Regions from separate parts of the Homo sapiens genome. Here all the other regions are linked to region 1. The links come from fine-mapping of genetic effects on gene expression. A gene starts in region 1. Each other region holds a variant in brackets. All regions are shown on one strand. Distances are from middle to middle.

Region 1 (8,190 bases):
TTCCCTTAACCTTCACTTTTGTTGTTGTTGCTTACATTATTTTGAGAAGAAAAAGCAGAAAAAAGTAGAATTCCCCTCTGAATTATCTTGAAAGGAAGGCATACACACACACACTCCTGAAGAAGAGTTATGTTGATTTTTCTTCTGATTTTCTTAAAAAGCACAAGTTTGAGTATACTGTGTATTAGAATTTCACATATTAGTCAAAATGTTATGCATTATAATGTCTGTGCATTTAAAAAGTAAAATAGAAAGAGAAATGATATTGCTAATAGAGTGGGAAAAATTAGTCAAATTTATTATTTTCTGAAATAACTGTTTCCCTGACTAGCCAATCAACTTCCTTTAAACACTCAATATTTAATTCTCATGTTATATCAAGAAGTTTCAAAAGATATTATAGAGATGGATGTCAGCTACAGCCAGAAACATTTCTTTTGATTAAAAGTTTTGAAGATAAATGCATACAGAATATGATGACTGTTAAAGTGCTTTTTAATCATACCACATAATTAAAGATAGTTTTATTAAAACAACAAAAACTGAACATCGCAAACAATGCCATGAATCTCTGTGGAAAAGAAAGTCAAGTTTTATTTTCCTTTGCTTAAAATAATTGGAGAAAAGCAACTTTTACCTATACTTAAAAAAAAAGGGAGAAATAGTGCAATGACGAACTCTCCTGTGTATCTTATTATTATGGAAGTCCCATAATGTATATTCTATTATGTAAGTGTCTTTTATTCCCAGAGTATATGTAATTTTGAACAATTTAGAAACTCTGTACCTCTATCCAGTGCTCTTTTGAACAGTTTTCCAATTATTTGATTCCAAAGTTAATTATATTTATTTGCATGTTGAATGATTTTTTTATAATGTGTATTTCAAATGAATCTATAAGGGAATTGGAAAGGTACAGTTATTATCTATTAATAAACTCTTGCTGACCACACTTTTTCCTCCTCTTTTTAAAGAGCAGGGGTTGTTTTATTTTAGATATTACAGATGAATGGCTTTAAGTCTGTCATCAAAATACATTGTTTTTATATTCAGTGGGCACTGTATTATATATTTTATTCACTATTTGAATTTACACAAGGAACTGTAAATTCAACGCTAGGATTTAATGTTAAAGGTTGATGAGCTCTGAACTTTTTTAACAAACAAGAACAGAGCAGTTTTGCCCGAATTGCACAGAGCATCTGCTGTGTGTCCAGAGGACTTTTGGTCGTCATTCCCCAAATGGGCAATAACTGCGATTATGAGCGCTTCACAGTTTTTTTTTTTTTTTTTAATTCATCTGTACTCAATCCAACAGTGACCCACAGATATTTCCCTACACTTATTTCTTTGTGGTAAAATCCAATGAACAACTTTTCGTAATATCATTTTCAAAGCCATCTTGTAAAATATAACTAAAGAGGTTTCAGTGTTCTCTGTTACATCAGAATAAAGTTCTTCTGTTTTATTTCGAAGACTCCTTTTTTAAAAAATTCACAGAAAGGTCAAATCCATTCCAAATAGAAATCTCATTGCTTAGAAATATTTCTTAGGATCTCGAATCACTCTTTTTTTGTCTTTTAAATTCTGTCATCTGCCTAGATTTAACTGAAATAATTTTTATTTCTCAGTGTGTTAGCTAAAGGCATCCATTCAAAGGTAAGAACATCATAAAAGGTGAATGGAATTAATTTCAAAGTATATATTTGGCATTTTTAAAGAGCTGCATTTCAGCATCTGGAGAGCTGCAATTTAGGCTATCAAATCTACAACAGAGAAGCTGGGGGAAATGTGAACACCCTTATGAGGAGGGTCAGTCCTCAGCAAGTGCATTTTCGGTTCCAACCTTCAAAGGTAACATTTTCAGCTTGATGGGCTCCTGGTGGAATATATAATTTGCCTCTTTCATTCTTAGCTTCGTTGAAATATAGAAGACTGGATGTCTACCAGGCCAAAGTATAAACTCACCATTTATCTATTAAAGTCATATTTAATGAAAACGAAGAGAAATTATGACCCAATTCACTCTCTTTCTCATTACAATTCCTAAAGAACTTTGCCGGGCACATTATCTCGTAGACATCATGATCAAATGTTATTGTTTGCTTTATTATCTCAGTTGGATGGTTGGCTAGTCTAGAATGAAATAGGTTGAAGGCAATACTCTCAGCCTAGAAGTCTGAATGAGGTTCCCATTCAAATGATCCTGATTGTTTGCGGGTGGGGCGGGGTGATTAGTAAACCAACTGAGCTTACACTGCATAGTAAGCGTCTGGATGCCGCACATTTACATCTAACAAGAGACCCCAGAAAACGTGTGTGTGTTTCTTAAACCTTATGTTCCGAACAAAAGGCTATCTCAGCAACAGACAATCAGCACTGCATTGCTCCCTGGGATGCGAGCAACACACTCAACTGCACATTTCATTCTTCCTCGGCTCCCAGCACCACAAAGCCCCTACTCTCTTCCCACTCCTGGGTCCCCAGATTACTCCATAGAGGGGGGTTGGGAAGGCAGAAGCCTAACGTCTATGCCTGCGCACCAGCCGCCGACACCAGGGCCCCCCGGGCGCTGCTTTCTCCAGCCCGAGCCGCCTGGGGGAGGTAGGGAGGGGAGCCAGGGAGCGCGAGAGGGGACCGCACACCTAGACACTTAGGATTTTATTTATTCACAGGGAGGCGGGGGAGGGGAACTGGGCGAACGCGAATTTTCTCCCCGAAGTTGCCTCTTCTAAGCAGATCAAGTCGTTTTCTGGCTGGTGCTGGGGGCCCCGGGGAGGGTGCCGGTGAGGTCCAGGCTCTCGAGACCAGATCCCGTCCCGTGCGCAGAGGGGGTGGGGAAGGGCGGACGGGCCGCAGCTGTCGAGAGGGCCGGGAACCGGCAGGGAAGAGCCCGCGGGCCGGGGAGCAGCGCGGCTCTGTCCCGGGCCCTCCAACGCAGGCCGGGGAGCGCAGGGGCCGGCTGGTCACGCGTGGGAAAGAAAGCCCCCTTCCCCCTACGGCGCTGCTCCCCTTTCCCCAGGCTGGGCCGCCAGAGAGTGCGTGCAGGGAGAGCTGCGAGTCCCCGCGCGCGTAATCATGACCTCGGGGCCCCCTCCGGGCCGCGTGAGCGCATCGGCGAGGCTGGGCGGCCGCCGCGGCCCCGGCCGTGTAACATGACCCGAGCGGCCGGCCGGCCGGCGCGGCGCGGCCATTGAGCCCTCCCTGCCCATGAATCTCTGGCGCGTCTCTAGCTCGCTCGCCGGCTCGCCTCCCGCCTCCCTTTCTCCCCCTCCAGCTCCGCGGGCTCCGTGCGCCTCTCCCTCTCCCTCCTGGTCCTCCCGCTGCCCGTCTCTCTCCACTGCCCGCCTCTCGCCACTGCCTCCCGTCTTCTCTCCCTCACGGCAGCCTCCGTCTCTTTCTCCCTCTCTCCTTTGAAAACTGATCTTTGGCTCTTAGTGTGAAAGTGATTTGAATTTGGCTCTGCGGCGCTCTGCGCCTGCGCCCAGCCTCTGGCATGCTGGCTCCTTCCAAGCAGCTGTTTTGGGTTTGAAATTCCAACATGGCAGAGGCTGCAGTCCGTCTTCCCTTCAAAAACTTGGAATGATTTCAAATCATAGGCACCTTCACTTAACCCTAGCTTCCATTCATCAGCAAACACATCGGATCGATGCTACGCTAACCTATCGGGTTCTCTCTCCGCGCGTTCAGGTAAGAGGAGCTTCGTAGTTTTCTACCATCTGTTTAAATTTGTTTTTGTTTTATTTTTAAAGAATATAAATACATCCAAGACCTGTAATTAAAAGAGATCTTCAGTTGTGCCGTAAACATTAAATTCAATTTCCACTCGTTTCTATTCTGTACGCCAACCTGCTGTCTAATTTCTCTGTTCAAAGTAGCCCTGAAACATTATAATGCATATTTTTGCTGCTTAATCATTGTAACAATAGTATGGGATTAAGAGTTCGCGATTGCAAGAATCTCGCTTTTCGCTATATTGGGCTTACTTATTACTATCTTTTTACTTCAAAAATAAAAAAATAAGAAAGCGGAGCCATAGGGTGGGGCTAGACTTTCTTCGGGAACTAACTTCTAAGTAAATAAGAAGTGTAAATAAGAATCTTGCACACACACAAAAAGTTGAGGTTAAATTACAATCTCGTGGCTGGGGGAACGAGAAAATGTCAGAAGATCGGTTGCAGAAAAATGTAAGCACATCATCTAGGAGGGGGTACAGCGTGGTGGGCGTATTGTTGGCAAGGAACGGGAGAGAAAGATGTATAATTTAATGGTATATACAATCCACTGATCCTATTACCGTCCTCCCCGGAGCTCTTGTTAGTTTCAATGGGAGTGAGTGAAATTGACATGGACTTGCATTCCTGGTCATGTGCTTTTTTTCCTTTCTTTCTTCTCCTGTGATCTGAGATCCCCTTTTTGTTGATGTTGCTTTCCCCCTTAATTATATGCATGTAGGTTAAATGAATACCTGACGAAAGGGCCCACGTTTCAAGGCAGTGACATTTGATAGCTGAGAGGAAAAGTGGCTTTAATGAAAAGCAACCTTTGGAATTCCTGCTTGTGAGAAATCCAATTCAGCTTTTTGTGCTGCCAGCAAGAAATGATCAGTAGCACCAGTGTTTATGGTATGTCAGTTTTGGAATTTACTTCCTTTGCATCTAAATAGGAAAGACAAATGAAATAGCATGATAAAACCATTGAAGACTGCCTGGCAAGCAGTTGCTCATGATATAGAATTCCTTTTTTTAAAAAATATATGTTTAATGTCACCATGCTTTTTTTTCTTTTGCTATCACTTGTTTGTATATTGCAGTTTTGATTAATATATTACTTGAATCCACTTTTATCGGTTTTAGCTGTCATCCAGAAGTTGCACGTTACTAGTAATGCACTATATATATATAACTGCTGAAGTCAAATAGTATGTAAATTAGTTAAACTCAGTGTGGGTTTTTTTTTTTTTTTTTTTTGAAGGAGGGAGGCTGGGCAAAGGGGAGAGGGCAGGAGTGTTGGGAAAGATTACTAACTAATGAAAGTGTATCTATATATATGTACACACACAGGAACAGGACTGGATGAAAATTTTATTTTTCTCAATCTATTAATGCAGTTTGACTATCTGCTCTTGATGTTTGCACTTTGTGGAGTAATCAGTTCTTCTGAGTGTGGTTTTTTTTTGGGGGGGGCGGGTAAGTGAAGAGGTGTCTTTTACATGAAAATAAAAATTATATTTTGATTGTCCAAAGTCCTTGATGTCTTTTAAAGAGTAGGGATAGGTTTTTCTTCCCCCTTTCCATTCACTCGTCTGCCTGTCAGCGCTTTTTACTTTTAACTTGTGACAGAATTAAATAATCAGGCACTGAAATTGACTTCGTTTGAAATCGCTCTTTCCTTTCTTTACAAAAAAAAAAAGTCAGTTAAATGGAGTGAGAGGGGATTTTCAATAGCTCTTGTGGCAGTGCCCTGTGTACACTTTGTAATATTCAATTAAGACAGAGGGAACAACAACAACAAAAAGATGTTAAAGTATTTTGCATAACCAAAGGATATGTCCACTTTAGACTGTTTTTTTTTTTTTTTTTTTTGGTTGTTGCTATGTTTACCCCATGACCGTTAATTCCTCCTGAAAAGAGAGAAAGAAGGAAAGAGAGAATATGAAAAAAGAAATAACAGTGGGGCAAAGCTGCCAGGGGTCTGTAGTGTGGCCGTGGTCACTGCTCTCTCCTAACACAAATGTGAATACGAAGAGAGGAACTACAAGACCCGTTGCGCGACATACACGTCTGGTTGGACTCTGGTGACTATTGAGCTAAATACACACCACACTTACACGATAGGAAAGATTTGATTGAATTTTGCATTTGGAACTTGTTGACTTTGAAGCGATCAATAAGAAGACTGTTTATTTTAGATGCACATAATTTGCCCTGAGAAATGTTTTAAGGAGGAGAGAGCACAGCTTTTTTTCCCCCGGAGCTGTTGGAGCGAATGGGATTGCCAGATGGGCGATTTCCCTCTGTGATGTTAAAGCTGTAATATATATTCAGAGCAGATTGGGCTGCTGCCTGTGATGAGGAGGATATTACATTTATAAATTTTAAATCGGAGCTCGGACAATGTGCTGAGAGCAGAAATTGGATGGTTTGACTGTTCACCGTATTGATACTTAAATGTGATTTCTAGGTAGTACTAATAATAATCATTGCAATAATTCATGAAAAACATACTGGCATAGGCAATTATATAATTCATGACATTTAACAGCAGATTTGAGTGTGTAAATTGCCCCCCTCTTAAGTCTCTGCTTACTATTAAATAATAGTCACATAATTCATTTCCCTATGTTTAAATGTCCGATGTGCAAATGATGTTAACTTAGGAGCCTTGTTATCATATATTAGAATTCTAGGGGTGAAAGTTTACATACATATATATAAAGTAGACACTTGTGTATATGTATAAAGTGGCGTTACTGGCTCTTGTTTTCTAATTCTTTACTCTGATTATTTTTAGATTTTGTTTGTCTCAAATGTGCGGCCTAAAGGAACCAGAGCTACAAACCTAAAAGACTAGAAAGTGGGCAAGTGCTCACACTCTGGCAGCTCTGCTGTTGCAAATTAAAAGTGTGTTGTGGTCAGGAAATGAAAGCTACAATGTCTCTTTTGAACAAGTCGTTTATCAAGAGAAACATCTATCAGGGACTGCCTTGTCACATTGATCCTCTAAAAGTTAGGTCCGAGGTGGAAGCTGCTTTGATGTTTTTGATCCTAAATTTAATACAACAGAAAAAAAGCAAGGATATTTTGACCAGTATAGATTTTTAAAAATGTTTCCTGGAACCAACAAGATCTATTTATTAGGATTTCACTATGTGTGAAGTTTTCTGGACGTAACAGTTGAAAGGTTGAAGGGGAAATCCCAGACTTTATAAATTGATGATTGTTAGAATATACATTTATAATATATTTAGTGATGGCTGGCTTCTTGGTGCACATGGAATGGACGTTTTGAACACAGATTGTTCAAAAGGAAAATTATTTTGAAAGATTATTTTGGAAGAATATGTAGAGAGTCAAGAGTTTTTCATTCAAATTTTAGTTATCCTCTTCTGTTCTTCCTCTCTTTTACTCCTTCATGCTTGTTTCTTATCTTCATTATATTTGTGACAAATTAGCTTTTATTTGGAAAAGAAACATTATTTCTACAAAAACCATGTCCCAAAACATGCTTGTACACATCGTCTCTATTGTTTATTAATTGTGCATGTTTATGGTTATCAATATAAACTGCATGGACACATAAGTCCTTTGGAATTTCAGCTTAAAAATAGAGGTATCAGATTAAACATGCTATGTGTTCTTGAATAATGAATATGTTGTATGCATTATTTAAAATTGAAAAGGTATTGTTAGGAAAATGACCAAGTTGAAACAAAATTGTGAAAGCAGTTAGAAGCAGCCTGCTTCATTTTGGGAGGCAAAGATAGGAAAGAAGTGTTTCTTCTTTAAAATAGAGTTTTTGGATACTTGTCTTACACTGCTGGAGGCAACTTGTTATTTCATGTGGGTCTATCATCAAATAAGCAGGGAAGAGTAGGGTGGGAGTTTTGAGAAGTGTAATACTTGCTAATTAATCATGTCTGAAATGAAAGAATCATAGCAGGGTAATAAAGTCTCATTGTTGTTTTCCTGGAAGAGGGTAAGACTTCTGTTTGGAAGCTGTATGTGTGAGTTGATTTGCTTTTCTCTTCTCCTAAAAACACAGTTTATAGGGTCTCTTTGGAATTATTTCAAGAAACATCTTTTTTTTTTTTCTGAAAATAGAGTATTTTTCTTTCTCCTGGCTGTATTTCATCAGTAAGATTCTTAAAACAGTATCTGATATCTTCTGAGTGAAAATAGGGGGTTTTATTCTTTAGTTATATTTAAGACTCCTGTAGCTGAGTTTCCAGGGCTGATATTTTTTTCCTTCCCATAAATAGAAAATATTTTTTGTTTTTGTTTTTATTCATGTTAGGCAGGAACTTTGAAAACCTTTTTGTAGGTAGTTACTTCTGATAGATATACAAGAGTGCAGAAATTTCATTAATTACTTTTAGATGATAATATAAGAGTGTAACCAGAGAGAAGAAAATAGGTAGTATTTCCAAGAATCTATAGAGACCATCTGTATTATTACTTTGCATTTCTA
Region 2 (8,190 bases), 270 kb before region 1:
TCTCTGCCTTCAGGCCAAGCATCTGTGGGGATAATGAATGGAGCAATTCTTTTGGCACAAAACAAAAGGCTCTTGGGGTGGGGAAAGGCCCATGGCGTCAGTCTAGGCACAGCTCTCACAAACGAAAATTCTTTGTTATGAATCGCTCCTCAGAAAATAGCTCTATCGTAACCAGAGAAGTGAAGGACACAGAGTAACTTTGTACTGAGGCAGGGAGGTTAAAGGCAGTGACCATGTGAAAGAATTTCAGAGGGATTTGATTCTTCTTTTATTATTTTATTTATTTATTTATTTTAGGTGCCTTTAGCTAAAGCCTATTTGTACCAGATAGAATAACTGTACAGTACCAGCTGAACTATTTAGGATACATTCATTCTAGCATTTCAAAATGGTAGACTTTCTGAATTAGTTCTCCTAGAACTACTGATGGGGTGTGTACAGAACATATAGAGAATGTGAGAATATAGCAGTAGGGAATGTACAAAGATCCAGGAGCACCTTTTAAAGCAAAATTCATCTATTATACTAGTATATGAATATATATCATACCTTTCCCTAGTCTGTTGAGACAGAAGTTAGAGCTCATAATCATCCAAAATTTAAAATATTAAAAATAAGTTTTTACAATTTTATGAATTGTGTGATTAAGAAACGTGGGTGATAGCTAATTATGCCTTACAAGTATGGTAGCTTTATATCATTTATACATATCCCTAATAACTATTTGATCACTTAGCAGATTCTGCTACTAGGCATATTAATCGGTGGCACATTTAGTAAAAAAGATCTTTGTTAAGTAGTGTGGCTGAATATGATAGTTATTTTACCAATTTCTTTTTCTCTTTTTAGAACGTGAAGTTAGTGTGACAATCCCACAATAAAACCCACTCTCTTGAAATTTGATCATTTACTTTGAAGTGATATTCAGCAATTAAATTTTGTATTTCTTTCAATGTTCGTTATGAAAATTGATGTCAATTTTCTGTCTCCTCACCAATTGAAAATAGCTTCTGCATATTATGTCATCTAGTCCATCTGTGATATATAAGGCGTGCCTAGGTAGGATATTTATTAATTTCATTTTAGATTGATTATTTTCATGTCATTTTCATGTGGGCACTTAGGAAGCAAGGGATGAATGAATACAATGCCACTAAGTCAATTTATAGTATCATGAGCAATTCCAGTAATAACTGTAGAGGTCATAAAAAGAGAAAAACAATAAGAGCTAGGGAAAAGCTATCTACAAATCTTTAGCTAAGAGACAACTATTTTGTGTTCTTTTGTTGTTGTTGTTAAATAATATCCTTAGGCATTTGTTTCTCATAATTAAGCAGCAAATGCTGTATTTTACATGGAGATACACTGGTATCTGTGAAGAGAACAGATTAATGTAATGTTTTGCTACCTTTGACCTTGTATCCTTGAGTCTCTTGATTCTATGTCACCAAACATAGCACTGTAATAGAGTTGAGGTCCAGCTAATAGTGTGTGCTATTCTGACTGTCATGCTCCATCATTGTAACTTACTGCATGAGGTCCCCAATGTAGCCTCGTGTGCACATGTACACATGCACGCACATGAGCGCATGCACCCACACACAGAAAATTCCCACTGACAGAAAAAAAAAGTAATCAGAGAATGCTTTTAAATACAGATTTTTCATTCAACTCATAAACAAAAAAATCATCTTGTTCAAGGTCTGTGTTCTAAAATGTTGTGATTCAGAATGCATTTAAATCCACCTCTCTTATAAAGTTTATTAGAAGGAGATAATCACAAAACATCCAAGCTCTTTTTTTTTTTTTTTTTGCATTATCCCATTATGGCAAAGTGTTATCAATTTACATTTCAATTTTCAACCTATTAACGTTAAGCTTCATAAAGTGAGAAAGTACTCTATGATGTTTTTGTTTCTTGACATCGTTTCTTCTTAGATGATTGGTTTAAAAACAACTTGAAAATATATTAAATTGTTTATAAGTTAAATGTATTAAATAAATTATTCTTTTATTATCTACTTCCATGTTTCCATATATATATATATATATATATATATATATATTACACTAGTAGGAAAACTGTGTGAGTTTCAAGCAGCTGAGCATTGCCCCAAAGCTATTATCCAACATTTCAAAATTTAAGAAGGGATTAAGATTCCTTATGAATGCTGCAGTTTTCTAGTGAATCTTGAAAACATAAATGAAGAGGCAGCTGTAACTGTTTCTAAGTGAAAGGAATACTCAAGAAGTATGTTTGATTTTAAACAGCCAATCCCAAGCCCATTATGAGATTTTAAGCTCCCATCCTCTGCTCCTTCTCTTATTCTCTCATATCTTCCTTCTTCCTCCTCTCCCTTTCTTTCCTTTCTTCCAGTTCTCCATTCTCCATCCTCATTTTAGGTGGCTAGTCCACTGGACTTTAAAAAGCAATTTCCTTTATCTGGAAATAGCACTTTCTTTTTCCAAATTCACTTGAATATAGCTCTTCAACCACATCATGTCAATCCCAAATATTATCCCAGTGACTGCGTCTGATAGGTCCAAAATAGTTTGTAAAATGAGGAATAAAAAATCATAATCAGATAAACACTGGTTATAATTTAATCTGTTTTTAAAGCATCATGGAGGGTTCATTTTTGTGAAGAAAAATAAGAATAGTTACAACTTTTGTTACTTCATGTATATGCATATGTATATGTATATATAAAATTAGCTGCACAAGCAACTTGGAAAGTTTTCTTATCTCACTCTACCAATTAATTAAACCAAATATTAGGTAGAAATAAGAATAGCCATTTGGAGAAATGTCTTTGTGTATACATTATATAGAGATAGAAGTTACTTTCAGCGAGTAACTGCATGTCAGTACTAAATTGCATTTTATACAACTTAAAATTATTTTTCTATATTTTTCCACTTGAAATTTTACTGAAATTTCAAATCAAAGGCACAATGTTTATATCCACAAAATGAATAGTAAGGATAAAGCTTAATTTTTAAAATCTAGAAACAAGAATATCCTGTTAATGAACACCAAAGTAAAAATAGGTTAGATGTTCTTCCTAATATGGCCGACACTGATACATATGAAGCCATCTTACAGATCGATATATATGTAAACAGGATACC[A/G]GATCCCAAGTGCAATTAGAACATCAGATTGAAAATTCTTTATTCTACAATTAAAGCACAGGCTTAAAAGGAAAAACAGCACATTTCCAATTAAATCAACTAAGTACAAGTTAGTTACTACCAAGTCCCATTTCTAAAATAGTAGCTTTTGTTGGCACGCTTTAGGAAGTAAATATTTACCCAGAGAAATGTAATTTCCTTTTCATTTATTTAGAAACTGCATGAGCTGGTCTCCGCTTTCTAATTTTCTTTGTACTAGTTAAGGTACTACAGAGATTTCTCATTTTGATATTAGAATTGTGTAGTTGAACTTGTGTATATTTGAAAGGGAAAGACAACATTTTCTTTCCCTTCTTAATTAGTAACTTTCTTTTTTACTTCCACTATGCTTTTAGTAATTAAAAAATAAACCTTGATATAACATTGATGTTGTTTGCAAAGTTATTTTGAAAAACATCTGCTGATGAGAAGCATGCAAAAAAAAAACTTTCATGCCGGTAAATGTGATTGCTAATAATTTCATCATGATTGCTATGACTGCAATTTATTTATTCTTAATTTATTTTTATAATGAACTGCTTCAGTAATATGACAAATGATTCCATTAGTTAAAAAACTAAAATGTCAATTTACATGTGGTCTTTGGTGACTAATTTGCTGAGTTGAGGTTTTGGTTTTCATTATGATAATATTTGGCTATGCTCTATGAGCAAAATTTATGAGGTCTTAAATATTAATCTTTTGATTTTCTGAAACAAGGTAATTTTCAGCTTTAAAAATGTTAGCAGTTTCCCTTTCAGGGTCTTGAATACACAAGTTTTAGGCACAAACTTCTGAAACGTTGTCATCTAAAAAATAATGCTCACTTTGTTCCCTGGGATCAAAACAATTCTTTTCCACTAATGACTGCAAATATCAGCTCATTTCTAACACAGTTTCCAATGGCAAACATTACTCAGTTGTCAGTAAAAGAAAAGGGATTACATCAGCATTCGGGGGAAAAAATGTTCTGTTCCTTCTTACTCCATAGTCTATGTTCAATCAGCCTGGAGCTAATGGAAGCCCTCCAGTGCTGAGAAATAAACAAACACAGTTGGGCAAATAGTCCAAAATCAAATCTAGTATATAAGGTGGACAATACATAGTTAGTTCCATTACCGAATCCTCCCCTGGGAGCTGGAGCAGCTTCAGAGCCCTTCTCATTACACACCAGCACCATCTGTAGCCAGCCTGAACCTGATTTGGGAATGTATAAAGTACACGAAAAAAAATAGACTCAGAATCGGGAGCTAGAGAATCCTATTTCAAGTTTAAATTTTGCTTGTGAGAGATCATTTGGTTTTAGACTCAGCAAACAGCGGGCCTCATCACTCACAATGAGGGACGCATGTAGCAAGGATTACTTCAGATCAGGGAGATTGAAGGTAATTGCTACTTTCCACAGGGATATATCTAGCTCAAGTATAGCTCAAGAGAGTTACAGCATGGTCCCATTAGCCACAGAGCTTCTATTCCACTTCAAAAGGCAAGCACCCTTTCCCCGTATTGCTGTTGCTGTTGTTGATATTATGCATTATTGAATTTAAAATTGTAGATGGAAACGAAGCCAATGGCAATGGCATTTTTAAAATATAAACATTGTGTGTGTTTGTGTGTGTGTGTGAATTTTAGGCTCTGCCTCAAAAATAGAACCAGAAGTTTTTATTTACTAAAAATAAAATGTAAATTATTATTCATAGAAAGTGATGATGTTGGTTACATCTGTTTGGGGGCTAAATAAATGAGCACATGATTATCAATGCTGAAATATATGGTGATATTATGTGCAGTACTTGAATATTTTCATCCAAGATATGCCACCTTCCAGCAGGCAGAAGTTGCTTTACCAATGCTACCTACTTTCCCTTTTATTCTCCTTCTCCCTCCATTCCCCAACCAACCCCTGCCTTCATCCAGTAACAAAATGTCTCTGGAAATCTGATTTCCTTCCTCCGTTTGAATCACATTCATACAGAAATGAAAATGGTTGTATGTGTCTTTTGAATGCCCTGAAAAGTCCGAATGTATATGTGAGTGTGTAATTCAGGGAGAGAGCACTGCATACAAGTATCTAGAGATTCATAGGCAGGGTAGATCACTTTCACTGGAGAGGACCAAAGAAAGCACTTTGGACAGTGCCTGCTTCCTGCTCAAGCAGAGACTGCCCTTACGCAATCTGAGCTCCAAAAGAAATAACTACCCCTTAACCTAGATAAATCCCTATTCCCCAAACTGAATCTCCCTCGTCCCTCCTTACACTACAGATGGGAACCATTCACCATTAGTAAGCCCTTTCCCTACTCTAGCACTCACCTGTCCGAAGGTGTTTCCAATCTTGTCAAATTTCAGATCCTTTCATTGATGCTATGTGGCTGCAGGGGTGTTCATTGTGCTCCCTTCTGGTTTGGTTTGGGTGATAAGACTTTAGGCATGACCTGGCAGTATCCTCAGGTGGCATCCTTACACTCTGGAGTAATAAGCTGAATCTCAGACACTATCAACAAATATTTATGTATTTTTTTTCCAATCCATCCTCACATTCTGAGTTACGTCAGTTTGCTGTAGGCAATATTTTTCACTGGTCAAAGATACTATTACTGATGTTGGTCTCCCATCTTTATCCTGTGAGATGGATCTCTGGGACAAATCCTTCGTCTTTAAAACTGCGTTTTCATGTTCTTGAGCTTGTCTGAAGAAAGTCAATAACCCTTCAGAACACTCTTGAGACTTTAATTCACTTCCGTTTTCATCCTCAAGTCTTATTTAATAAATCTCCATCATCCTAGATTCTGGTGCTCACTTTTTGGGGGATTATTTAGGATGTGAACTCTGGAGTAAGATGGATCTGGAATTAAATCTTACTTCCAAATTTGATTGTGGACTTGTATAAATTATTTAATCTTTCTAAATCTGGCCAGTGCAGTGGCTCACACCTATAACCCCCCTATAATCCCAGCATTTTGGGAGGCTGAGGTGGGTGGATCACTTGAGGTCAGGAGTTCGAGACCAGTCTGGTCAACATGATGAAACCCTGTCTCTACTAAAAATACAAAAATTTTCCAGGTATTGTGGAGTGCGCCTGTAATTCCAGCTACTAGGCAGGCTAAAGCAGGAGAATCGCTTGAACCTGGGAGTCAGGGGTTGCAGTGAGCCAGGATCGCACCACTGCACTCCATCCAGCCTGGGCAACAGAGCAAGACTCCGTCTCAAAAAAAAAAAAAAGTATTTAATTTCTCTAAATCTCTGTTTTCTCAACTAAAAAATTAGGATAATAATGGCATTTGTATTATAAGTTTATTGAGAATATCGAATGAGTTAATTTATGAAAAGATCTTTGTCAAGTTAGTACATAATGAATGCTATCATTATTACTTAATAGTAATAATAATCTAAATCTCTACTCCAATTTGTCCCTTGCTCAAGATTTTGTCCAGTGGTTTCTGATCCTAGGTCATACCCACCAAGTTCTAAGAGCTCATCATACCTAAAACAATGTGCCTGAGTATCTTCTTAAAAAAAGAAAATAGCTACCGTTTACTGAGTAGTTCCTATTGCCAATAGTGAGCTAAGAGCTAAGTACACTATAGACAAATCGCATTTAATTCTTGTAACAAATATACAAAGTATGAATTACTGTTTTTTGTTTTTGTTTTGAGATGGAGTCTCACCCTGTCACCTGGGTTGGAGTGCAGTGGCACGATCTTGGCTCACTGCAACCTCCGCCTCCCGGGTTCAAGCAATTCTCCTGTCTTAGCCTCCCGAGTAGCTGGGATTACAGTTAGGCACCACCACACCTGGCTAATTTTTGTATTTTTAGTAGAGATGAGGTTTCGCCATGTTGGCCAGGCTGGTCTTGAACTCCTTACCTCAGGTGATCTGCCCCCCTCGGCCTCCCGAACTGCTGGAATTAAAGGCATGAGCCACCACACCTGGCCAAATTACTGTTTCATAAAAGAGGAAACAAGCTCAAAAAGGTTAAATGATATGTTCAAGTTCACAAGAAGTAACTGTCAATGTTGAGACCTAAACCTACAGTTTTCTGTGGCAGAGATCACCAAAAATATAACACCACCCATTTCCTCTTCTGGACACACAGAGCATATTTTCCAGCCTCCTTTGTAGTTGGACATCTCCAGTAACTGCATTCTAGCCAATGCAATGTGAGTCAGTGATGTGTGTATCTTAGATGCCCAGCCTCGTATAACTTCCCATTCAAAATCCTCCAGGCTTTTTTCCCCCTTCTGCCAGCTGGATGCCAATGTGCATGAAGAAAATGGCAATATTCATCAACCTGGATCCCTGAATAACTGCATAGACTAGAGCACATCTCCCTACTCATTCACTTTGCCAGTTGATCTGGAACGAACTCATTCTCTCTGTGTTTGAGACATATGCATTTAATTTTTTAATCATAGTCTGATATTACTCTAACTAATATAGTATGCAACTTCAAAGTATTCTATCTCTATTTTTGTATTGCACTGACATAAGAATTAGCCAGAAAAATGTTACAATATTCAGAGTCACACAGGAACTTTAGAAATTTTTCTCAGGTATGTTGTCACAACTTTGGAATAAAGGTATCTAAGCTTTAATTAATTATTTCAAAGTATTATAAAATGAATACCATTAACTAGACAATTATAAATTTTAAAAGTTTACTTTTAACATTTTCCAATTATCCAAAATGGTAAAAAAAAATAGGTAGGGTAACTTTAATCATGGTATTCAATTCTTTATGAATTGTCTTTAAAAGGTTCATAAAAATTATCCATTATATTCATGATTTTGTATCTCTACATAATTGACTCATTTTTGAACTAAATTAAATCTTGTTATCCCACACAGAGTCAATAAAAGTAACACTTTTATTTCATAATTCAGCACTTTTCAAAATACACATTTTAACCTACAATAATCTAAATTTAAGATTCAGTGCCATGAGAGGAGTTAGAATAATACATAATCAAGATAAAGTATTTTACAATCAAGCAGTTCTATCTTTATGTCTTGTCTTCC
Region 3 (8,190 bases), 47 kb after region 1:
CTAGCTCCTTAGAAGAAAATACATTAATATCATATTGTTATATATTGTTGAGCTTGTTTTTAACACCTTACTTAGGAGCCTAGCTATAAAATAATTTTAACTATGAAAGGGACCAACACCTCCTACTGGTACTTCCAGTTAATCTCCTGGATGCTTCTAGAAAGACTGGCCCTATGCCTGCTTCTTACTGAATCATGTTCCTATGTATAATATTTTATCCAAATAAATGACAATACAAAATCCTTTTACTTAAACAAGTTTAGGACTATAAAATATTTCAATTCATATTTTAATTTTAATAATTTTGTTCATAGCTTTCAGTAATAAAGCAAAATGGAACATTTTATTTTTGTGAAGCTTATCATTGTTTGCTAAGACAGTAATGTTAGAAAAATAATCTTTTCCCTAGGCATAACAAAACAAATGTTTAAGATAGATTTGATTGAGCATTTAAAATTTTTAAAGATGAACTTGCTTCTGGGTCTTCACTTCTTGGAGAGAATCCTTGGGAAGAAACTTAAAAAGATTTGGATTTGTCTTTTCTTTGGACAGAACATTTTGTTCTTTATTCTAATTGCAAATTCCTCTGGCCCTGGTTATAGCACATATTTTCCTCTTTATTCCACAACTTCCACTCTGCTTTCTGTTTGTTTTTAATGCTCAGAAGGGTTAATTTTTGCCTCAATTCCTGAAAAGAGAAAGTTGATTGCCACTAATCCATTTTAGTGTAGGTAACATGAAATATTTGTTAACCAAATTAAATCTGGCTGAATTGAAGTGCATAACCACTCATGGAAGGATGCCACTCTCTGACTTACTGGTGTTAGTTTCTCTTGGATTAATTAACATGTTGTAAGATAGTCTAGGCATACTAAAGTCACTGTTTAAAATAGGTCACATCAAGTAGCAGAGTATGAAAATGTCCATCCTTATAAACCAGGGATGGCAAACTCAGGTGCCTCCTGGAACTAGATTGGTTAAAAATGAGTGAAGGAGGACAGGTAGCAAGATTGTTCCTCGTTTGTCACCATGAAGCATCAGCAGATTGTTGACTTGTGAAAATAAAGGCAGAGGGTTGCCATATTTTCTTTTCTTTATTTTCTTTTCAAGATACAGCAGATACCCCATTTTAATGTAATTGTATCAATTTTTTAAATTAGGCAACTAATCAAAGATTTTACAAACAGTGTGCAGTCTGTGTTTTGTACATAGGCTGTCAGTTTGTGACCTCTAGAAACCCCATCAATTTGAAAGATAAATTTAGTCTTATATTAAAAACAAAGTGCACAGTGTTCTTAATTCTGTGGTCAGTGGCCAACGGTCCATTTCCTTTGGGAAAAAGTTTATTTTTGAGTCCCATGATCCTCACTCTAAGCAAAAGACTGAAAGACTATTTGGGTTGATAATTTACCCAACAGCATATTGAAAAATGTTAAGTCGGAAGTCAGTTCCTCATACTGTCTGGTAAAATCTGCAGTGTTGGTGTGGACTAAATCTATAGTTTAAAAAATGTTTTATAGTTTAAAAAATCATGAGAAGGCCTGTTAGGTAAGAATGCCCCCCACCCCAACACACACACACAAATTCCAATGACTTTAAAATTACAAAATTACATTTTTGGTATATCTCTATCTTAGCAACACTGTATTCTTTTCCATCTCTTTAAAATGTGCCACAATTAAATACACATAAAATAATCTTTTATATATTTATATATACTTGAGCCACCTTTCAACTTTTACTTCTCTAGATTACATAATTCAGACTTCTTTAATATTTACATATATCCTGTTTTATATATTTTTAAATGTGTTCTGTACTGTTGCCTAGACTAGACTGGTATTGTTAATAATCATACTAAATGCCAATGCATTATATAACTGCTTTATTACATCTTATATATTGTGTGTATTTATCTAGATTAGATTGCTTTTTACAAATGGTTCTATCCCAAAACAGCATTAGTTTTTGATTCTCACCCAGCTCTACGGCTTTTTGACACATTTGTTTCTGCTGCTGGAGATTGCTAGTCCATTGTGTTATTTCCCCATAAATGTATAAATGTATACCGATACTTTATTTGATTTTTAAATTTATATTGAAGATATAACCTATTGTTTTGAACTACAATTATGTCCATTCCTGAGTTAGCCACACCAGCTATCCCTGGTGTCATGTCCTGTTTGAAATTAAGTATCATGTGTTTTTCTTTATTGAAGGCAGTTAGCTCGAGTGTTTAAGAAATACTGGCCTCATCCTTGGGGAACACTGTAGTAGGCTTCCTTGACATTGAATCATTGGTAACTGTTCTTTCATAGGCCCAATTTGACCATCTGATTTATGTTGTATGTATCTTAACAATTGAGGGGGACTGACATAACTGGAAGAAAAGTGCACATATTTTAATGTTGGCATCACCCAAAACAAGGACATCTTTAGCTGCTAGATTGAAATTATTTACAATTTTGCACTTACTTTATGGTACCAAGTACAAGTATTCTAGTTACACTTGTGGTTTTAGAGAGTATTTGCTGCTCATTTGGAGTCTCAAATGCAAAATATAACCCTGTAGCTATTATGTGGGTTTGCGACACTCCCATGGGGACCTTGGGCTCATAAACCAGCGAATGGATTATATAATGCTGCATAAATGCTGTATTTTTCATCTGACAGACATAATCTTGATCCTATATTTTTATGTTGCCTAACTGCTTCAGAATACCACTTTTGAAGCAACCCATCAAAATGGAAATTGCTTCTAAAACATGTAGCAATAAATATTGGTCAAGGCTCTGTGTAATTCAGATTGACTCAATACTTGAACACTACTCGATTGAAATTCTCTACTGTTTTTAAATAAAAGGTTGATAATTTCCATTTTATGGTATTGTTTGATCCTTTTCTTTGTTAGGCATATATTTACTTTGTTAAAATTAAAATTTTATTTTCTGATTGTCTAAGGCATGCCTGATAGTCAATCAAGCATTTCAGTAGGTATAGATAAAATATTGAGAACTTACATTGAAAGTTAAACCACATATGGATCAAGACATATATGTGATATAGATCAACAAATATATGTGGTACCTATGAAACCAGATGAGCATCACTTTCAAACTTGCAGTATAGAGCTCTGTGTCTAACATGTTATCTGAAAGACTTGATGCCAGAGCTATGATTTTGCTCCAGCCTCTCATAATCTCACTCTCTCTCTGTGTGTGTTTCTGTGTGTGTGTGTGTGTGTGTGTTCATTTTTGTTTTTGAGATAAGGTCTCAATCCATCATCCAGGCTGGAGTGCAGTGGTACAATCATGGCTCACTGCAGCCTCGATCTCCTAGGCTTAAGTGTTGCACCCACCTCAACCTACCAACTAGCTAGGACTACAGGTGTGTGCCACCACACCTGCTAATTTTGTATTTTTTCAAGAGATAGGGTTTTGAACTGGCTGGTCTTGAACTCCTGGGCTCAAGGGATCTGCTGGCTTTGGCTTTGCAAAGTGGTGGGATTACAGGCATGAGCCACTGCACCCAGCCTCATTGTTGTATATTATCCGATGTGCTATTTGCTTTACAAATAATTGTTATACTCTGCTTGTCCTTTACCGAAAACATGACCAAAAACTATCTGATATTTACTATCCAATTTTGTTGAATAAAAGAGGAATCCAGAGTTGTTAACTTTGGCTTTAGGTTCTCCCTCTTGCGACCAACTTTGAATTATCTGGGCTGGGTAGTCCACAAACAATGTGTTCATGTTGTCTCCCTCTTACTCACAAGCCTTCTGTAGCTCCCAACATTCACTGCATGAAGTTTAAACTCCTCTTCTAAAACTATGATAACCTGGTCTCATCTTCCATCTAAACAGCGATTTCTTTTTAACTTTCACATAGATATACTGTACACACATTTCTCGATTTTTGCCTTTGTCTATTCATTCCAGTCTGTCATTTTCTAGTGCCAATATTAAGGATCATTTTATGATCTTACATGTAACTGTTTTAGACTGCTGATCTCCTTCACTTCTAATCTTTTCCACCACTTTATCTGTAACATTCAATATAGCTCTCAATTAGATTATGTCTTCATTTTGTTTGCTATTTTATAATGTGATTGTCAGACCTAGGACCATGTCTTCAATTCCTGAGTTCCCACATTCTGAGCACACGATAGG[T/A]CTCATTGGATACTCATTTCACTGGTGATGGATCTCCTGGCTCTTTTACACAGAGTATCTTTTATAAGCAGGCATTGCCATAAAGACATTAGTTTTAAAATTCTTCACTTCAGTAAAGAGTGAATGCCGTATATATACATGTATCTTCTTTGTGAGGTGAATTGTGTGCTTTGGTATTTTCTGGCAAGTTTTGTCAATGGAGACTAGTAAAATAAATCCTTAGAGATTTACTGAACATTTATTTTGTGACGTATAGTTGACGTGTAATACAGTTTTTACTGAGAGTTAATACCTCACTTTGTAAAGCATCTGTATACTAACTCCTGGCTTAACTGTCAGGGATGATGCCTTTTTGTGGTCCTTTGTTTAGGAATGTTGGTCTTTGTGACCCAAGATATGTGAGGACATTCATTCTTGATTTAACTTTGCATGTTACTGTTCATTTTTATTTCTACTTTGAAAAACAGGAATTTTACTAAAAACAGATTATGAAAAATGAATTAGCATTAGGATAAAAAATATATACTTTAAAATTTAAGTTTGCATTGTTAGTTGCCATGCAAAACATCTTGTTCCCTAGGTAAACGTGTACTTAATCAAATGGCAAGTAGAATAAAATGTAAACTAATTGCCTCTGTGACTAAATTCTCTATTCTTGACTGTCTTCCTCAAGAGTAATTCTTTCATGTGAAGTCAGTTGACCAGTCTCAGTTACCTCATTTTGGAGTGAAGTCTAGTACTCTGAAAAGGGAAAGATAAATTATTCTTTGGGGAGCAATGCAGTTTACTAAGCTGTGTATGAGGCCTGAGGTCAGGTGACCCGACTCTGTTCAAATTGTCAAAGGCAAGTGTCAATTGACAGTGTGTTCTGCTCTCTAAACTAGCACTCAAAGCCTAGTGGTTGAGCTTTCTGTTACCATTTCTTCTCCACTGCTCTGGAGAAAGGTTTTGTTTGTCTTGCTGGCTACTGCTAGTACCCATTTAAAAAGTTTAGACACAATTCCTTCAATATTATATCTAGAAAAATCTAGGGTGGTCTTGGAGGGCACAGGAGAAGAAGTTAGTGATCCCCTGACACAGTTTTATGGCTTTGAATACCATTCTGTTTCTTTTCTCCTCTAACTCTTCCAAATGCCTCTGAGAATCATGATATGAACTTTATCATTTTGATAATACCAAAAGAGATGTCTCTGGAAGCATGTAGCTGTGCATGTATGTGTGTGTGTGTGTGTGTGTGTACACAATCTCACACATACATCATAATATAAAATGTGTTAATATTAAGTAATGACTGATTATTTTAAATAATAACACTCTTTACAAATACATACGTCTTCTGCCCTTCAAAGCACACTTGGCCTCCTGCTTGGAAAGTGCTTTCTGTCTAATAGCACTTTCTTCTGATCATCTTTAATTTTGGCAACACTTATCACTTTAAAAAGAATATATATATATGTGTGTGTGTGTGTGTGTATGTGTATATATATATATACACATACATACATAAACACAGGTATATGATTTGGGAAAATAGCTAAATGTCACTGGGAGCCAGGCCTAGTAAATGAGATACTGTTAGAATTGATTCAATAAAATTGATAATATTTGGTCTCAAAACCAAATTGTAAGTATAAAATAAAACTAGTGTGCTTGTGTGTTCCTAACTAGGACTATATGTGTAATGTGATAATCTACATAAGGCAGTTTCGCCCACACTTCTCACTTCTTTACCGTTCCCAACTCTGCTTTATATAGCAATGAAACTTCAGGTATGTTGTTGCACTGCTCATCAAAGTACCACTTTTAGAAGATTGTACTTGAAGAGTTTTTAAATAGCACTAGAAAGACTCTGCCATGCCACAGAAAAGCTTTTCGCCACATTAAGTGTACATTTAATCAACATTATGGCAATTATAGCTCTACTAGAAGTCCTTCACCCTCTGTTTTGTGGCGAGAACTTTGTCTAGGATAAAACTGTCATGAGTAGAGGTAATTTAAAATTCATCCTCCTTTTATTTATGTCAGAATATGACAGGGTGGGATGATGGATACCCATCTTTTTCTAATTGTAGCAATCTATTCTAAACTTCAAAGATAACTTGTTAGAATTCTCATTATTTAAAAAAATGTTATGACACCATTTCTCAGTCATTGCTTTTGTACTATTTCAATAATCTCCTTGGATATACTGATTGAGAAACTGTTATAAGGCTTACTGCGAAATTGACGAAGTCCAAATTTGATGACTGTCCCAAATAGTTTTGTGCCTTTGATAGATTTTACATGTGTTTTTTTCTATAAATCTGCCTTTAAAAATTTATTGTTGTCTTCAGATGTTTTCATGATATGTTCACTTAGTAGTTTATGCCACATGTCTTTAATGCAGTTCTAGAAACCCATTGCTGAGAAAGTGAAGTTCTCTTTCAATATCCATAATGAAAGTCAGTTTACTGGCGAGCACACCTGGGTTTGGCTTCCTAGTTATTCCTCCAGTAACACTGTATTGCATGTCTTAGGAAAAACTATTTGATGAGCTTAGATTTACAAATTAAAGTATTCTTCCACTTACTTCAGATAACGATACTGCAAGATCGTTAATATTGACCTAGAAGAAGTCTGGCTCAGCCTTCTGATTGATGAGCTGTGGTGGCTGTGAATGCTAACATAACCTTAATCTAAAATCATGAGCCTCTACCAAGGGAGGTAGTAGTTCCTCTGAATGCTACACAGATCATGTCACTTTTGAAGTCATGGTTTTTGTCTTGGACTGCCTATGCCCTAAGGGGAACACGGCCAAACATGTATTTATCTAGAAGATGTCAGAAAAAGTGATTGATCTGAAAAACTTCTGTCTGAGAGATTATTAAAGTAACTTGGAAAGTTGTTTTGGAAATAGGAAGAAAGACCCCAAGGAAGATATTTTCACAGTTTTTCTTTATCTGAAGAGCTGTTGCCAACTCATCACAAAAGGGTAGAACAAGGAGTACAGATTAATTTGAAAAATATTTCTGATTCTGAATTCAAAGTCTAATTGTAAAAAAGAAGATAGCAATGAGAGAGTATAGTCCCATACCTAGCTAAGTAAATGAAACTGTTAGGTGTTTATGGAATAGGAAATATGACTCTTCTAGTCATCATGGACCCAACCTTAAAGAAAGTTACAGTTCACTGGGTGCGGTAGCTCACGCCTATAATCCCAGCACTTTGGGAGGCTGAAGCGGGTGAATCACGAGGTCAGTAGCTCGAGACCAGCCTGGCCAACATGGTAAAACCTTGTCTCTACTAAAAATACAAAAAAAAAAAAAAAAAAATAGCCAGGCATGGTGGCTCCCGCCTTAATCCCAGCTACTCGGGAGGCTGAGGCAGGAGAATTGCTTGAACCTGGGAGGCGGAGGTTGCAGTGAGCCGAGATCACGCCAGTGCACTCCAGCCTGGGCAACAAGAGCAAGATTCCGTCTCAGAAAGAAGAAGAAAAAAAGGAAACTGACAGTTCAATAATGAAAATACGCATTTTCATAGCTCTAATAAAAGTAGAAAAGAATGTTTTTAACTAGATTTTACTGATAAAGCCCTGTGGTTCATAGAGGAGAAAGTGATCACTTTGAGTGATAAACATCTACCTCTCCCTCTGAAAGCCTAAAGTGGGGACATGTACCTGAAAACTAGATTGTGTGCTTGAAAGAGAATGTAGACAACCAAGCTAGGGAAGAAAAGACCTGAGACCTAATGGGTTAAATTCTATCCTTGGGACTTGGACGTGTTACCTGACTTCTGGGTCTCCATTTCCTCATCCAGGAATACAAAATTAGACTATCTGTTATGATCAAATAATAGAACTATTGTTAGAATCCAGCTTGATAATATTTGTAGAGGATTTTAAAAATGCAAAAAGGCTATGCAAATATTAGGGACTGCTGTGACTTAAAATTTCATCTAGCTTGCTTTTGCTATGTTTAGGCAGAGTAAAGGCTGAACTTCTCTTGACTTTTTGTAGTACCTTTATAGAGACTAAATAGTAT

Direction of the effects. Positions count from the first base shown, and alleles are read on the strand shown. Sizes are in standard deviations (SD) of each study's normalised expression. Not every link is listed here.
In carriers of allele A in region 2, the expression in cerebellar hemisphere of the gene that starts at base 3,520 in region 1 tends to be lower than with G alone (small effect, 0.23 SD a copy in GTEx).

What was found. PIP is the estimated chance that this variant, and not a neighbour inherited with it, causes the effect.
Region 2: its variant is the best candidate, but not a certain one, in a credible set for the expression of FIGN in cerebellar hemisphere (GTEx, PIP 0.54).
Region 3: its variant is the best candidate, but not a certain one, in a credible set for the expression of FIGN in tibial artery (GTEx, PIP 0.58).

What each region holds. Positions count from the first base shown.
Region 1 is chr2:163,731,338-163,739,527 of GRCh38, reverse strand. It overlaps FIGN (fidgetin, microtubule severing factor), which reads left to right and starts at 3,520. Exons shown (of 3, transcript NM_018086.4): 1 at 3,520-3,690; 2 at 4,456-4,625. The coding sequence starts at 4,601. It overlaps LOC107985957 (a long non-coding RNA gene), which reads left to right and starts at 5,587. Exons shown (of 2, transcript XR_001739759.2): 1 at 5,587-8,190. RefSeq lists enhancers at 1,881-2,396, 2,397-2,913.
Region 2 is chr2:164,006,096-164,014,285 of GRCh38, reverse strand. No RefSeq gene overlaps it. Among named protein-coding and RNA genes, the nearest start is that of FIGN, 270 kb to the right of the region's middle. The variant A/G (reference allele first, on the strand shown) is at 3,133.
Region 3 is chr2:163,684,232-163,692,421 of GRCh38, reverse strand. All of the region lies in intron 2 of FIGN (fidgetin, microtubule severing factor), which reads left to right. LOC107985957 (a long non-coding RNA gene) reads left to right here. Exons shown (of 2, transcript XR_001739759.2): 2 at 1-8,190. Among named protein-coding and RNA genes, the nearest start is that of FIGN, 48 kb to the left of the region's middle. The variant T/A (reference allele first, on the strand shown) is at 4,172.